3 linked regions of the Homo sapiens genome follow. The protein of the gene in region 1 interacts with the protein of each later gene in a pairwise test. Each region holds a gene or a part of one and is shown on either strand. Other genes may lie near its edges.

The links.
Region 2: the proteins of NSMF (region 1) and TTC23 interact in binary tests that used the Homo sapiens proteins (3 or more experiments, as listed by UniProt).
Region 3: the proteins of NSMF (region 1) and LMO2 interact in binary tests that used the Homo sapiens proteins (3 or more experiments, as listed by UniProt).

Annotation. Positions count from the first base shown.
Region 1 is NC_000009.12:137,457,883-137,461,629, reverse strand, and holds the start of NSMF (NMDA receptor synaptonuclear signaling and neuronal migration factor), read left to right. Parts: upstream 1-2,295; 5' UTR 2,296-2,527; coding exon 2,528-2,598; intron 2,599-3,080; coding exon 3,081-3,142; intron 3,143-3,728; coding exon 3,729-3,747. Other genes in the region: PNPLA7 (patatin-like phospholipase domain-containing protein 7), read left to right, coding at 10-94, 893-996, 1,154-1,237. UniProt on the Homo sapiens protein: Couples NMDA-sensitive glutamate receptor signaling to the nucleus and triggers long-lasting changes in the cytoarchitecture of dendrites and spine synapse processes. Part of the cAMP response element-binding protein (CREB) shut-off signaling pathway.
Region 2 is NC_000015.10:99,221,982-99,225,728, reverse strand, and holds part of TTC23 (tetratricopeptide repeat protein 23), read left to right. Parts: intron 1-182; exon of another isoform or gene 183-345; intron 346-3,747. UniProt on the Homo sapiens protein: Participates positively in the ciliary Hedgehog (Hh) signaling.
Region 3 is NC_000011.10:33,890,069-33,893,815, reverse strand, and holds the start of LMO2 (rhombotin-2), read left to right. Parts: upstream 1-1,739; 5' UTR 1,740-2,021; intron 2,022-3,747. UniProt on the Homo sapiens protein: Acts with TAL1/SCL to regulate red blood cell development. Also acts with LDB1 to maintain erythroid precursors in an immature state.

The sequences.
Region 1 (3,747 bases):
CACCCCTAGGTCCTCACCTGTCCCAACGCCTCCTTCACGGACCTTGCCGAAATTGTGTCTCGCATTGAGCCCGCCAAGCCCGCCATGGTGGATGGTGAGTGGAGGCGCAAGACGAAGCCGTGGAGACGTGCGTGACCTCCTGATGCTGTGTTGGGCTTGAACCCCCCCACCCCAGAGGCCCACGGCCTCCCCTCCCGCCCACGTCCACGCCCAGGCTCCAGCAGCTGGGGTGCTTGGTGGCACTCCTCCGTCCCGGGCACCACGTGTTCCCACAGCAGTGGGACTGTGACCACCCCGGGTCACCCAGCCCCTGCCCTTCATTCACCTCAACTCCCAGCCACACCTCAGGCCTGAAGTAGAACCACGTTTTGCCTCCCACCCCACCCAGTGGGAAATGGGAATGAAGGCTGCTTGTTGGAGGGGCCGCAGGACAAGAAGGGCGGGTCCACTACCCTCCATGCTCCATCCAGGGCCCTGCGCTTGGGCCTTCAGCCAGTGGCCTCCTCACAGCAGAACTGGACATTCTCCTGGGAGACGTCTTCATGGCTGCCGCAGGCCGAGAGGGCCCTGGGCAAGGCAGCCCCTATCCACAGTTGCCAGGTCTGGGGTGCTGGAGCCCTCAGGGTGCTTGGCTGACAAGGGGAGGAGTGTCTGCCCGCTCCTTGTCCTTGTGGAAGACCCACGAAGTGATGTGCTGGGGCAAAGCTGGAGCCAGACAGAACCAGGGGTGGTGTGCAGGGCTGCCCTGGGACCAGGTGGCTGCGTGTAGGGCCCCGGGCCACCTTGGAGGCGGGGGTGGGCATCTGTGGCCGGTTCTGCCTCTGAGTGTGGCTATGCTGGGTACGGTCCCTTCCTTGGGAGGGGACTGACGCAGCCCTACCCTCGGTGCCAGACGAATCTGACTACCAGACGGAGTACGAGGAGGAGCTGCTGGACGTCCCCAGGGATGCATACGCAGACTTCCAGAGCACCTCAGCCCAGCAGGGCTCAGACTTGGTGAGGAGCTGGGCATGGTCCCACCTGGTGCCCACAGCTGAGCCTTGGTGCCTGGCCCTGTGCCGGCCACTCCCTCCCTGTGGTCCCACCGGGTTACCAGCGCTGCAGAGCCCCTGCCCTGCCTGGTCCTCACCTGGAACATGCGGTCTGCTTGCAGGAGGACGAGTCCTCACTGCGGCATCGACACCCCAGTCTGGCTTTCCCAAAACTGTCTGAGGGCTCCTCTGACCAGGACGGGTAGAGGCCTCTGCTAAAGAGCCCGGATGCAGCGTCTTCCGTGGGACTGTCCCCAAGGCTGAGGCTCCTGCCAAGTCCTAGGGGCCTCTGTACCTGCCCTGCTGGAAGCCCTGACTTCCCCGGGGCCCCAGGCTGTGTTAGGGTTCTCTGGGCCTCTTCTTTGTACCAGCAGCCCTGCATACAGGGCCCTGTGAGCCCCCCTGCAGTCCTGTGAGGCCCCTGAAGCTCTGTGAGGCCCCTGAAGCTCTGTGAACCCCCTGCAGCCCTGTGAGGCCCCCCGAAGCCCTGTGAGGCCCCCCGAAGCCCTGTGAACCACCTGCTGCCCTGTGAGGCCCCCAAAGCCCTGTGAACTGCCTGCTGTCCTGTGAACTGCCTGCTGCCCTGTGAGGTGTGGGAGCCCTGATGCTGCCGTGTGATGTTTCAATAAAGGTGGATCTCACTGTTGGACGTGTCTCCCGGGCCGAGGTCCCTGTGGCAAAGAAACACTACTGGTTCTCCCTGATGCGGGTGGTCCCTGAGGCTGGGCAGTCCCCAGTCCTCCTCAAAGGACCCCACTGCTGGGGCCTGAGAGCCCTAGGGCGGCAAATGCAGGCCAGGCAGGTAGGGCGTCCAGAGTCTGCATAGAGCTGTGGCCCCCCAGGACCAGGACGGGCCCCTCTGTCTCTCTCTGGCCTCGTGCAAACTGGGTGCCCCCTAAACTGGCTTCCCCTTCGGTTTCCAGTTCCCAAACTGCACAGGGAGCCCTTTTGTGTAAGGGGAGGGAGAACCGGCCTCCCTGTGATCCTGCAGGTCTGAGCAGCAGATCGTGAGGGCCGAGGGCCCAGGACTTTGCGACCAGGGGGCCGCTGGCCTCAGTTTCCCCGCTCTGGAGGCCTGGACGAGAGGGCGCGGAGCCAGGCCGCCCGGCCCCGCCCCCAACTCAACCCGGGCCCGGACGTCACGGTGGGCGGGGCCACATGTCCTCTCCGAGCTCTCCGGGGCCCTGACGTCACGGTAGGTGGGGCCGACCGCCCCTCTGGGCCCGCCCGGGCCCTGACGTCACGATGGGCGGGGCCGGCCCTCGGTTCGGGCAGCGCTCTCCCGGGAGCGGCGGCACGCGCGGAGCGCCGGGTGCGGCCATGCGGGGACCGGGCCCGACCCCGAGCCCGACCCCGAGCCCAAGCCCGAGCCGGAGCCCGAGCGAGACCCCGAGCCCGAGCCCGAGCGCGACCCCCGGTGCGGCGCGGCTACCCCGGCGGAGGCGGCGGGCGCGGGGCGCGCTCTGAGGCCCGGGGGATGCGCCGCCGCCTCGACCATGGGCGCCGCCGCCTCCAGGAGGAGGGCGCTGAGGAGCGAGGCCATGTCCTCGGTGGCGGCCAAAGTGCGGTGAGTGCGGCGGGGCCGCCTTCCCGCACCCCGCCCTGGACCTCCGACCCCGCCCGAGTCCGCCCCTGCCCCGCGGTGCTCCCCGGGCTCCCGGGCCCCGGCCTCTGCCACTGAGGCGCCCTCCCCGCGCCCCGCGCCTCCCTCTTCCTGGTCCCCTGCCCTGCTCTTCCCTCCCCTCCCCTCGCGAGCGCGTGGTGGGCGAGCGCACCCCCCAGGTCGGGAGTGGCCTCGGTTCCCCCGGGGAACAGCAGCCGACCGGCCTCGCGACCCCTCTCCACGGTCCGACGGGCAGGGGCCGGGCCTGCAGGCCTGGCCAGGGCGCACCAGGACCAAGGGTGTGTGGGCTCCCGGAGGGGGACGACCCCGACCCTCCTTCCAGACGCCGAGGGCCTGGCTGGGGACCGGACCCCCGGCTCTTGCGCGGCCCGGTGTTTGGGAGGGTCGTGCCGTGGCCTCTGACCGTGCCCTCTGTCCACCCTCAGAGCAGCCCGAGCGTTTGGAGAGTACCTGTCCCAGAGTCACCCTGAGAACCGCAACGGCGCAGGTAGGGGCACGCGAGGCCGTGCCAGGGCCGCCCAGACCCCCCAGCCCAAGGGATGCTGATCCCTGCCTCCGGGGGTGGAGCGTGAGGGGCATTGGTTGCGCGTGGGCCCGGCGCCCTGCCGGCCTGGCTTCCTTACATCCCCTGCCCTCCCTGCCCGAGCCCCAGGAGCAGTTCCCAGCCGCTCGTCACCATGGCACCCACCCCGCCTGGGCCGTTGGCATGGCAACAGGCCTCCTGGCTCCCCCAGGGCTGGCACCACTGCCTCTGGGGGCCAGCTGGTGGGGGGAGGGGGAAGTTGGCACCAGGCAAACGGTGCGATCGCAGGCTGGGGGATGGCCTGCGTGTTCCTACCCGGCAGGACCGCACACAGGTAGCACAGCGTCACCCAGCCCCCACGCACATGCTAGAGCTTCAGGCCCAGATAGGAGTGAGGGGCTCAGAAACACGCCAGTGACTAGGGTTTGGGCAGCCCTAGTCCCCCACAGAGGCCAGGTGCCCACTGGGTGTTCTCTGCCTTCGGCCTGCTATGAAACCGGCAGCGGGGGGCCCACACGCGGCAGGCAGGCTCACTCAGTGTCTCTCCTAGATCACCTGCTGGCTGATGC
Region 2 (3,747 bases), on another chromosome or scaffold:
GATGTTTGTCACATAGCCAGTCTCTGACTTCCACATTATTTCAACATTTGTTTGTTGGCATTCTATTATAAGGAAGAGCTTTTCTTTCTTCACAGCTTATTTATCATTCATTTATTCCTATCAGTATGGGTTCAGGAAATTGTATTTTTCAAATACACTACAACCTGTTATTTTCATGGAAGCTCGGATTGTTCCGTATCTGCCAGTGAGAGACCCTTCCAGCTGGCTCCTGAGTCCTCAATGCATCCCCTTACGGTTTAACCACTTCCTGGCGCTACCACTTGCTGGTAAATCATCTCGACTTTCCAGCCTTAGACTCCTTCATCTTTAAACTGAGGGGACCAGGTGAGATGATTTCCAAGGTTCCTCCCAGTTTTGAAATTGCCTTCCTACTTCGTGCTTGTCTTCTGTCTGCCCCTTACTGATGCCTATTGCTAAAGTCACTGGAACTGGTAGAATAAAGGTTGGAAAACCAATAGGGATATTTGGACCATGCCTTGTAACAAATAAGGACGTGAAGGAAGGACAAGCTGTTTCTTGTATACCTCTATCCCTACTCAGGTCCTGAGAACCAAGGCTATTATCAGGGAAGCCCAACTCAGCCTGCACCGTCCTCTTCGCTGGAAATCTGTAGTTGGGACAGATTCACTATCAAAACAGATCTACCTCTCTTTTTGTCTGTCTGGATTCCATGATGTTGTCATCATTTCCGTGTCTTTCATACACTGTAGTTGTTGTTCTCTTTCTCTCTCTCCAAAGTAGTCATTCCCTAAACTTCCTGTGTCTAGAGGCAATAAAAAGGTGATTCCCAAAAGAAGTACAAACAGCCAGTTAACACATGAAGATGCTCAGCCTCATCAATTTGGGAGAAAAATGTGGACTAAATCAAGGAGAAATGGGCTAACTGACAAACTGACAAACTAAAAACCAAACAAAAACTCCACAATTTGTACTCAGTTCAACGTAAGGGGCATTTCTGCTCACATGTGCTGCGCTGAAAGTATGAACTGGTACAACCTCTGGGAGAGGCACTTCAATAGCTACTCACAGCCTCAGAATTTTGCATATCCTTTATACAGCAATCCCATTTGTGGGAATTTGTTTTGTGGAAATGTTTATGGGTATGTGCAAAGCTATCCATACAGGATATTCAGTGAGTAAGAAATTTACAAACAGCTAAATGCCCAATAAAGAGTGGATTGAGTAATGCAGTTATGATATAGTCATATAATAAAATACTGTGCAGCCATTCAAACTTATATCATAGAAGATGACATGAGAAGTTATTCGTAAATTGTTAAAACAGCAGCTGTAAACCTGCATGTAGTTTATGAACCTATTTTTGAAAAAGAAAAAATATATAAAGATAGATTCACAAAAATAAAGAATAAAGGGATATTTATCTACCTAGATATCTCTAGGCGGTAAACTTACAGGTGATTTTTAGTTTTTATCTTTTTGCTTATCTGTATTTTGACAATGAGCATACATTATTTTTGTAGTAAGAAACGTTACTGTAGAAAAGAATATGACAGTCCACCTTCTTTCAGCACTTTATGGTGAGCATGTATTCCTTAGCTTCCTCCTGCTAGGTCACAAAAGTGACTCTCCTTTGGCCAACTGTCTGGCTGTGTATTTTTGTCAAGAAAAATGTTGTTTTAGGGTGAAGGTATTTCCAATGCATGTAGGAATTGTGTGGAAATGCAAGCCCTTTGAGCTTTGACATTGATGGGCGTGCATCCTAGGTGTATCCTGGATCTTCTTCACAACTCTGTCCTTGTTCTTACCTTTCTTCCTCTGCTTTGACCCCTTCAGCTTTCTTTCTTCAGCCATCTCTCTTGCTGTTCTGACTATCTGTTGCTGCATGACACCCCAATAACTTAGTGGCTTAAAACCAAAACAGCCATTCATTTTTCTCATGAGCCTGCGGTTTTTGCAGAGCTCAGTGGGGTTTGCTCAGCTTTGCTCCGCACAGCATCAGCTGGTCTTGAAGGGTCTGGAGAATCTGCTGCCAAAATGGTTCACTCAAACTATCAGGCCTTTCTATGTGGGTCTTCTCTCCATGGGGCCATGTTGGCTTCCTCACAGCACTGTGGTTGGATTCTGTATTAGTCTGTGGTGCTGTCCTAACAAAATTCCACAGATGCTGTGGCTTAAAGAACAGAGTTTATTTCCTCACAGTTCTGGAGGCTGGAAGTCCAAGACCAAGGTGTGAGCAGGGCTTGATTTCATTCTAAAGCCCTCTCTCCTTAGTTTGTAGATGACTGCCCTCTTGCTGTGTTCTCACATGGTCATTTCTCCATATGCATGCCCATCCCTGGTGTCTTTTCCTCTTCATATATAAGGATACCAGCTGTATTGGACTAGGGTCCACCCTAACACCTCCTTCGAACTTAAATCACCTCTTTAAAGACCTCATCTTCAAAAACAGTTACATTATAAGGTGCTGGGGATTGGGACTTAAATATATGAATTCAGGGAGGTTGGGGAGGAGACACAGTTCAGCCCATAACAGGTTTCAAGAGTGAGTACCCAAGAAGAGACAGAAAGCAAAGCCACCAGTTCCTTTAGACTGTGGCCTGAAAACTGGCACTGTATCATTTCCTCCACGTTCTATTGGCCAAACAGTCATAAAGCCCAGATTCAAAGGGAATGGGACATAGACCCCCATCTCTGAATGGAAGGAGTATCAAATAATTTTGGAGCTGAGGTTTTGTTTGTTTGTTTGTTTTGAGACGGAGTCTCGCTGTGTCGCCCAGGCTGGAATGCAGTGGCACGATATCGGCTCACTGCAAGCTCCGCCTCCCGGGTTCACACCATTCTCCTGCCCCAGCCTCCCGAGTAGCTGGGACTACGGGCGGCCGCCACCATGCCTGGCTAATTTTTTGTATTTTTAGTAGAGATGGGGTTTCACCATGTTAGCCAGGATGGTCTCGATCTCTTGACCTTGTGATTCACCCATCTCCGCCTCCCAAAGTGCTGGGATTACAGGTTTGAGCCACCACGCCCAGCCTGGAACCGTGTTTTAAAACTGCCAGCTCTGCTTTGAGGATATGGCTGCTCTGAGATCACCTGGAGCTGGGAATCCAGTTTTCTGTTCTTTTTGTCCTATCCCTGAATGAAACTGTGCTTCTTGCTGCTTTAATCAAGTCTGTAAGTCCTGCTGATCTCATTTGCTATGCTAGTGCAGATGGCTAAGGAAAGTTTTGAATTGAGAGCTAAACTATAGTATTTGACAGCCTGGGCAACATGGCAAAATCCCATCTCTACCAAAAATACAAAAAACTAGCCAGGTGTGGTGGTGCACACCTGTGGTCCCAGCTGCTCAGGAGGCTGAGGTGGGAGGATTGCTCGAGCCCCCTGGAGGTCGAGGCTACAGTGAGCTGATATCGTGCCATTGTACTCCAGCCTGGGTGACTCCAGGTGAGTGAGACCCTGTCTCATACACACACACACATACACACACACACAAAGTGTACTATTTGAAAACACTACCATTTGCCCCTGTTGTGCCTGCATATGTAGTAGCTGTTCATTGGTGGGCAGCTGGGAAACCTAGAGAATGACTAGATGTCTGCTCTACTTTTTCTATTTTTTAAATTCTATTTCTTTTTTTCACCCTTAAATGTACTATAAATTGTACTTCTTATGTTTATTGTCTGTTTCATCTTACCAGATGTACATGCTACCACCCCAAATAGATCTTTGTCTGTTTTGTTCTCTGATACATCTCAAGTGCTTAGAACA
Region 3 (3,747 bases), on another chromosome or scaffold:
CCCGTATGCTAACCACCAGACCACACTGCCAGATAAGAAAAATGTTCGATTGTGTCATACTTCCCTCATTGGCTCCAGTGTCTGAAAATGGCCCTGAATTTCAGAGAGTCTTACCATGACCCAGGGATTTAGAGAGGATCGAAGAGGGAGGACAAAGGAATCAGGCACCTTCTCTCTCTCTTTTCTGGGGTAAATTTATTTTCAACCACAAAAGTAAAGGAAAGAAAAAGTCACAACAGATGAGTTATGAGCTAACTTTCTGATTTGCACATGTAAGAGAAAGAAATGAACTGGATATCATTAGACATTGAGAAAGGGAGTCTGCAAGCTAGCAATGTATCTTCGGCCTTTTTGATTTACACGTGTTTATTTATGAGTACCTACTGTGTGCCAGGCATGATGCTTGGTGCTGCCAATTCAAAGAGAAATAAGACACCTCCTTGCAAAGTGAGAAGGCAGAACTAGATTCAGATTCACCTAGATTTCAACTCTTGTGCTCAGGCCACCACCACCACCATGGAAACAATTTTGCTTGACTCTCCCGGCGCAGCCGCGGCAGGCGTGTGTGTTGTCAGACACTGCAGGAAGAGTGATGGCCTGGGTGTTGACAGGCTCCTAATTGGAAGGTAGGAGGTGCCACCAGAGATCAGCTATAAAAGATATCTTTGGACTGGGGTGGGCTGCTAATGCTTGGAAGAGACTTGTGGGTGAGGCCCGGTGAGCTGTCACCTCGGAATTGGGCCTTGCCCAGCAGACAGACATGCATGCGGGGGAGGTAGCTGACAGACAGGGGCGCATGGGGAAGCAGCCATTCCAGAGAACTGCAACAGCAGATTGCAAACCAGGACTTCAGGACTCAGAGGGGGACAAGGAAAGGAGAGCCTATAGTGGCCCCAAAGCCCAGGGTCAGAGGCAGGGCCAGGAGAGCAGCTGACAAGAGCTTTATGGTAAGGACAAAAGAGAAGACAGCCGGAGTCTCCTTTTATTCAGCTCATAAAGACCCAACTTCTGTGCACTTATAACTGTTCAGACCCTGAGGGGTTCAAAAAAAGAACCGTGTTAGGAGAATTCAATATTTAATTAAGAGATGATCAGATCCGTGCACCGAAATTATTGCTGGGTAAGACAATACTGTGTGTGTTACATAGCATTGGAACTTAGGAAAGCTCTTTCCTTGTGTTGTTTAATTTAATCCACTCAACAACCCTGCAAAGTGGGTACCATTGTCCCTGTTTTTTATGAATGAGGGGGTGAGGTGCTGAGAAGCTGTGTACGTTATTTGAGTTTGTCTGGCTAGTCAGTGGCTGAGCCAAGTTCCAATCCAGGTCATGTGAGCCTCTGAACTTTCTGATAAAACCTGCAGACCCCCTTAACTGGGATAATATAGTCATGCATTAAGCAAGAAGGAGAAGTAAATACAGGCTGATGGTGTAGGGGAGAAATTCAAAGGGAGAAGGCCTAGGAGGGAGAGGGAGCTATGTGTGAACAGAACCAAAGATGGCCTCTGGGAATTGGAAGGTCTCTTGGAATTCGTCCAAACTGAGGATCACAAGTCTCCACATTCTGAGTAGGAGGATGAGGGTCTGAGTTAGGATTTGGGTCCTGCAGGGCTTGCTAAGGAATCCCCTGATGGCCTAGGATTCCACGCAGAGCACATCTGGTGTGAGAGAGCTCGCTGCAAGGGTGAAGGCTCCGCCCTATCAGATAGACAACCAGGCCACCAAGAGGCCCAGCCCTCCAAACCCTGGATTTGCAACATCCTCAAAGAACAGCAACGGGCCTTGAGCAGAATTGAGAAGGAAATACCCCCACCTGCCCTCAGCCGTTAAGTGGGCTTTGCTATTCACAAGGGCCTCTGGGTGTCCTGGCAGAGAGGGGAGATGGCACAGGCACCAGGTGCTAGGGTGCCAGGGCCTCCCGAGAAGGAACAGGTGCAAAGCAGGCAATTAGCCCAGAAGGTATCCGTGGGGCAGGCAGCCTAGATCTGATGGGGGAAGCCACCAGGATTACATCATCTGCTGGTGAGTAGGCTTCATTAATTCTCTGATGAATGGACGATTGCAAGGGAACTTTTTTCATCTTCAAGGAGCCAGAAGAAGTGGTGATTAAATTGGTCTTTTAAAATAAAAAGACTCCAAAGGGGTACAAGTCTTCAAGCTTCCCCTGTGGTGTTCCGGGCACTCTGGCTTCTCTTTCGGAGGGAGGAAGAGCATCTATTCATAGGCTGTGACTTGGAGAGGCCCCACGGTGAGTCAGGCGCTTGCTGTGTGAGCCGCTGGTTGCTAATGTCTTCGGGAACTGCTAATTTACCCATCTAATTTGTTCCTGTACACTGGCCACAAAGGGAGACCACTCAATTATTCTGATCCAAAAGAGAGGCTTGTGTTTACCATGATCTCCCCAGCAACTGTGTGAGTGTGTGTGCATGTGTGTGTGTGTGTGTGTGTGTGTGTGTGTGTGTGTGTGTGTTTGCCTAACAACCTTAGGCAATGACGAAGAGGTGGGGCTGCTGCCCTTGTTAGCATTTTCAAACACATTCCAGTTCTGAGTTGAGGGCAAAGATTGTAATGGGGTGCTTCAGAGAAGCCTTGGCTCCCAAGGAGGTTATAACTTCAAAGGGTGTTTTTGAAAAACCAAGGCGGATGAGGAAAGTGGCTACAAGTTCCTTCCATCACAGAGGATCAATGAAGGGGAACAAAGATTTGGGAGCATCTACTTTGTGCCAGGTACTGTGCTTGGGTTTTACACGTCTTCTCTTGTTGACTTTGCATAACTCCCCTTTGAAGCAGATATTACTCCAGGTTCTTGCCGTAATGTTTCAGCTTAAAGAAAACCAACCCATACTTCTTTAGGTTGCCCTGAAAAGGTGAATCTTCTGTGAAGCCTTTTCTGTCTTTATCTGTTAAAATTAATTAAGCTCTTGTTTGTGCTCCCAGAAAATCACTTTAGACCTTAGAAAGATGGCAGCCTCAGTTTTCTCATTTGTAATATAGGGGTACCCATAGGGTCATTGTGAGAAATAATAGAAATAAATCATGGAAGTGCTTGGATAGTAGCTGGTACTTAGCCCTCATCAGTCATCATTGTCATTGTTGTTAAGAGTAATAATAATAATAATATCACTTATTATAATTACTCACCTCTAGGTTTTTAAAAAACTTACAGGCCGGGCACATTGGCTAACGCCTGTAATCTTAGCACTTTGGGAGGCCAAGGCAGGCAGATCGCCTGAGGTCAGCAGTTCAAGACCAGCTTGGGCAACATGGTGAAACCCTGTCTCTACTAAAAATATGAAAATTAGCCACGCGTGGTGGCTCATCCCTGTAATCCCAGCTACTCGGGAGGCTGAGAGAGGAGAATTGCTTGAACCCGGGAGGCGGAGGTTGCAGTGAGCCAAGATGGCACTATTGCACTCCAGCCTGGGTGACGAGAAACTCCATCTCATAAAAACAAAAACAAAAACAAAAAAACTTACATAAATTTATGGGGAACAAGTACAATTTTGTGACAAGCGTAAATTGCATAGTCTTGAAGTCAGGGCTTCTAAGGTATCTATCACCAGATTGATATCTATTGGTATCTATCACCAGATTGATATCTATTGATATCTATCACCAGATTGATATCACCACATTGTACCTATTAATTAATTTCTCATCATCCTCCCCCCACCCTTCTGAGTCTCCAGTGTATATTATTCCATACCCTAATGCCATGTGTTCACATTATTTAGCTCCCACTTATGAG